2 separate regions of the Homo sapiens genome follow, and region 1 is linked to region 2. The links come from fine-mapping of genetic effects on gene expression. Tissue or cell type: whole blood. Region 2 holds a variant in brackets; the other region holds the start of a gene. All regions are shown on one strand. Distances are between the middles of the regions.

What was found. PIP is the estimated chance that this variant, and not a neighbour inherited with it, causes the effect.
Region 1: it holds the start of SECTM1, and the variant in region 2 is fine-mapped to the expression of SECTM1 in whole blood (INTERVAL, PIP 0.97).

The regions. Positions count from the first base shown.
Region 1 is chr17:82,332,169-82,334,850 of GRCh38, forward strand. It overlaps SECTM1 (secreted and transmembrane 1), which reads right to left and starts at 1,598. Exons shown (of 5, transcript NM_003004.3): 1 at 1,532-1,598. RefSeq lists a silencer at 1-225 and an enhancer at 102-904.
Region 2 is chr17:82,395,252-82,397,933 of GRCh38, forward strand. The region is part of intron 8 of OGFOD3 (2-oxoglutarate and iron dependent oxygenase domain containing 3); the gene reads right to left. It overlaps LOC124904090 (a long non-coding RNA gene), which reads left to right and starts at 1,630. Exons shown (of 3, transcript XR_007065956.1): 1 at 1,630-2,038; 2 at 2,337-2,510. The variant A/G (reference allele first, on the strand shown) is at 1,335.

The DNA of each region.
Region 1 (2,682 bases), 63 kb before region 2:
TCTAGAGCGGGAAAAGATGGAGGCGGCAATCAGATTTCTCTCAAACCACGAACACAGGGGTCGGTATCTGAGGCGCCGGCACCAGACACGGCAGGGTCTGAGTGCTCCCTGACAAGCGATGATGCGCAGGCTTGGAGCCATGCCAGTGACACGCCTAGGAAAGTTCACGCACCGCCCAGCACGCCTGCGCATGCCTGTTCCCGCTCCCTGGTGCCCCGGGCGCCTGCCTGTCCCGGCTCCCATGGGTGCTGGGTGTGTGGAAGCTCCGGCCCCCTCGGGCTGGGTTCATTGGGGTCCTCCTGTGTGGTCAGTGGACTCTGTACCCCCACAGCACCTGAGGGGTGGCTGACACTGCTTTCCCAGCTGCTGCAGGGGCTCAGGGAACACAGGTGACCCCACGTCTCTACCGAGAATGAGCACACCAACACCTCTCAGAAGACAGCTGCAGCCTGCAGAGGCCATGGACCCCACCCAGGCCCACGGTGTGGACGGCTCTGCCCTGGTCTCTGCTGAGCCAGGCCCAGAGGGGACCCCAGGTGAGCAGCAAAGCCCCCCAGGCCTGGGGCTAGACCGGGCTAACCCTTCCTGCTCAGCACCTGTTCACCTGTCCCCTCTGCTGGTGGCCTCCTGTCCTCCCGCTCTGGGCTCAGCAGCAGCCCCGTGGAGAGGCCCTGCCACCACCCCCGCCCTGCTGGAGACAGGCCTCCTACGCGGGCTCCTGCAGCCGGTCGCCCTGGGCCTCCTAGAAGCCGGGGATCCTCTGCTGACCACCGGCAGAAAACGTGCTTCTCAAGCTGCAGGTGATTCACCAGTAGTGGGCAAGGAACTGAATGTGGTGATTACTGCGGAGTCAGCAAAACCCGCGTGAGAACGGGCAGCTGAGGGCCTGCCGGGTGAGGGAAGCCTCACGGTTCCTGTTTCATGAGTTTGCTGTGAGTGCACACGAGGCTGTGGCTGTGGAGTGTGCAACAGTCCACGCGTGCCTGCGTGTGCTCATGTGCGTGTGTCCACCAGCTTGTGTGCACGCATATGAGCGAGTGCGTTTTGCTCCCAGCTTGGTCGCAGCGACGGCGCAGGGAACCCCGGGTGAGGCCGAGGACCGGGAAGGGAGGAGGGGGCTCCGACCCATCGGACTTAGGGGAGCCCCGGGTCCGAGACGCCGCCTCTGTCCCTTCAAGAGTCGAGCCTGGCGCACAGGGCAGGGACGCGGGTCCCCACACCGGCCGGCAGCTCGTTCCCGCCCATACTCGGGTACGCCCGCTGCGACCCCGCCCGCCTGGCCTGCGACGCACGCTCAGGGCCAGCGGGGGGTGACGGTCCCAGAGGCAGAGGCGCCGCAGCCCCAGAGTCCCCATCCCTGCGCGGACCGGCAACCCCAGTGCACCAAGAGGCCCTAACACCGAGCCCCCAGCACCGAGTCCCCAGCACCGGGCCCTCAGCACCGAGTCCCCAGCACCGAGTCCCCAGCACCGAGTCCCCAGCACCGAGCCCGCCCCTCTGGTTCCCCCGCCCGCCCCTCTCCGCGCCTCACCGGGTCCGCTCCTGGACGCGCTCCTCTGGGATGCAGCTTCTCCGCGCCCCGGAGCCCCAGGAAAATGAAAGACACGAGAGGGAGGGGCCAGGGAGGAGGCGGCGGACCCGCGCGGGACCCACCTCCCAGATGAGGAAGGAGCTGGGTTTACGGGAAGCCTCCAAGTTTCGGGAACCACCCGCGTTCACAACAAGCGTGACGGTGAATTTATTATTTTCACGGGAGGCACCGCACCCGCGGTTCACGCTAAAGGAAGCAGGAAAGCCGCCGGGAGCATTTTTCCAGGAGAGTTCGTGCCTGGGCGGGTCCAGCTCGCGTGCGGCGCGCGTTCCCCGCGGGGCTGTTTGGCTCCGCTCCTGGAGGCCTCGAGTCTGTGCACGGGGCGAGCTGGGCGGGCCGAGTGGGCCGCGGGGAGGGAGGGCGGGGGGCGGCCCCCAGATGCCTGGGAGTGCGCGGGCAGAGTGAGCTGGACCCCCGGAGGGTCAGAGGCCCTTTCATAAAAGCGCGCAGAGCAGAGGAGTGATGTCCCCCAGCTCCCCCGCAGAGGGTCCTGCACCTGCGGCCTGGGCCTTCAGGCGTCCTGCGGCCCCTGCGGAGGTGCTGGCCTGGCCAGCCCGGGAGGAGGGGCCCAGCCTGTTGGGGCAGGAGATTGGGGTGCGGGTAGAAGGCTCCAAGACGCATCCGGGCCGGGAACCCACAGACATCCCAGGTGGGCAGGAGGTGGCTCGAGGAGGCCTGGAGGACCCGGCGCCTGGCGGGGTGGCAGGCGGGCCACGTCCTCCACTAGAACCCGAGGGGGCACGCGGGCAGGTGCGGGCGGGGTCAAGGATGACCAGGTATCTTCGGGACACTAGGAGGAGGCCCCACAGGCTGCAGTCACGTGAGTGGGCAAGTCCCCACCGGGCAGATGATGGGGGACACTGGGGCGTGGGCAATGCCCCCAGTTTCATGGAAGAGAGGAAGAAGCAGAACCAAACTCCGGGAAACCCTCAAATGTGGGGAATGGACGGAGCAGGGCCAGACTGGACGCTGAACCTTGGAGCCTGCAGCTCAGCCATCAGACCCAGGGTCCAGAGGTGGGTGGCACAGAACAAAGTCCCCCGGGATGTTCCAAAAGAGAAACTGTCGCCAAATTGGCAGGTGAAACACAG
Region 2 (2,682 bases):
GAACTCCCGAGCTCAAACGATCTGCCTGCCTCGGCCTTGCAAGTGCTGGGATTACAGGTGTGAGCCGCCCCACCTGGCCCCCTTGGTGGATTTTAATCCATTTCTTTTCACTGTAATAAACTACAGCCAAGGGTATAATGGCTTTGCTGAGTTCTGTGAGTCCCAACAGTGAGTCACTGGACCTAAAGGTGGTCTTGGGAACCCCCGAACACAGGACTCTGCCTTCCTCGATAAAGTTGCCCTACAAAGAAAACTAGCATTTGCCACTCATGGTAAGAACTGCGACACGGCCGGGCGTGGTGGCTCACGCCTGTCATCCCAGCACTTTGGGAGGCCGAGGCGGGTGGATCACGAGGTCAGGAGATTGAGACCATTCTGGCTAACACGGTGAAACCCCGTCTCTACTAAAAATACAAACAATTAGCCGGGCGTGGTGGTAGGCACCTGTAGTCCCAGCTACTCGGGAGGCTGAGGCAGGAGAATGGCGTGAATCCGGGAGGCGGAGCTTGCAGTGAGCCGAGATCGCACCACTGCACTCCAGCCTGGGCGACAGAGCGAGACTCCGTCTCAAAAGAAAAAAAAAAGTCTCCAAATCACAGGTAAACACATAGATACACACAATTAGACAGATGTACAACATCAAATCACAGGTAAACACATAGATACAATTAGATGTATGACATCAATCACGTAAACACACAGATACACACAATTAGACAGATGTATGACATCAAATCACAGGTAAACACATAGATACACACAATTAGATGTATGACATCAAATCACAGGTAAACACATAGATAACACACAGATGTACAACATCACAGGTAAACACAGATACACACAATTAGATGTATGACATCAAATCACAGGGAAACACATAGATACAATTAGACAGATGTACGACATCAAATCGCAGGTAAACACATAGATACACACAATTAGACAGATGTACGACATCAAATCGCAGGTAAACACATAGATACACACAATTAGACAGATGTATGACATCAAATCGCAGGTAAACACATAGATACACACAATTAGACAGATGTACGACATCAAATCACAGGTAAACACATAGATACACACAATTAGATGTACGACATCAAATCACAGGTAAACACACAGATACACACAATCAGACAGATGTACGACATCAAATCACAGGGAAACACACAGATACACACAATTAGATGTATGACATCAAATCACAGGTAAACACATAGATACAATTAGACATGTATGACATCAAATCACAGGTAAACACATAGATACAATTAGACAGACACATGCAGGAGACAGGTTGTTTTAATTATCTGAAAGAAGATCGT[A/G]ATACAAAATGTTTGACTCAAGTATTTATCATGCTTAAAATGACTAAGATCAAAATATGCTAAAAAGTTGTGTAATTTCGAGTCCCAGGAGGCTTCAGCTGCTTGACTTCTCAAGAAAACGCCTGTCTTGTGCTCTGTGAGTTTTTCATTTTCCCACAAAACTGCTGTGACTGGGACTTCTGGGGTGAGGGCAGACAGGCTGGGCTCCTGCTTGCAGAGGCTGGACGTCCAAACCCTTCCCCTAATGCAGAGATGACTCAGAACAACTGACATGAAGGCAGAGTGAGGCCAGGACACAGTCAGGCCAAACGCCCCCAATCCACGCCAGGGGAGACTGTGCCCAGGGCTGCGGCACACACGGCCTGAAGCCGGCTGCAGGGAGTGGGCTTGGCCAGCCGCTGGCTACAGCGGGAACTGTCCAGCCTGTGGCCAGGGAGCAGCTGAGGGAGGCAGGATGGCAGGAAGTGGCCGGGCAGCTCAGGCCACCTGCCACAGGTGGTCGTGGAAAGAGAGTCCCTCAAACTGAGCTTGCAAACTGAAGTCGTAAACTAACCTGAGAAAGGCAAGTACAAATAACAGGAATCTCAAAATAAACAAGCTGGAGATCTTAAAAGAGATGAAAGAAGTCCTGACTGTCACACAGTCCCTGGTCTGACTGAGCGGCCAGGCAGGAGGAACACCCGTGCTGAGAGGCCACCCCACAGGTGAGGGCAGTGCCCTGGGGACGGGTGAGGCAGCAGGGGGTGAGGGCAGTGTCCTGGGGACGGGTAAGGTAGTGGGGGGTGAGGGCAGTGCCCTGGGGACGGGTGAGGCAGCGGGGGGGGGGGGGTGAGGGCAGTGCCCTGGGGATGGGTGAGGCAGTGGGGGGTGGATGGTGCTGGCACAGTCCACAGGGCTCCCAAGCCTATGCGAGTTTCGGCTGCATCTGGGGTCAGGGCCGTGGGCTCCACCTGAGGAGGCCCCTAACAGGGGTTCCCCACTCCCCACACCCTCCCACCCCAGGATCTGGGCTTGTGTTACCCACAAGTTCAAGGAGCAGAGGATGACTGTCCGCTCGGCAAATGCTCACTGGCACTGCTGTGTCTGCAGCAGGCTGGGCATGGCTGGGGCTCTGGGACTCTGGGACTGCAAGGTCCAGTGTGATGGGTTCTGAAGCCGGCACCGCAGAGCCACCCGGTGAGGTTCCAGCCACCAGCGAGGAGGGCACTAGGTCACCGACACTGGGCTGGGGCCTCGTCTAATCTTAGGTTGCGAGTCTCTTTGAGAAGGGTACAGAGGTGAACGCACTCCAGAGGGGAGGGAGGGAGACCCTGACCGCCAAGGTGACACACACCAGGGAGGGAAATGG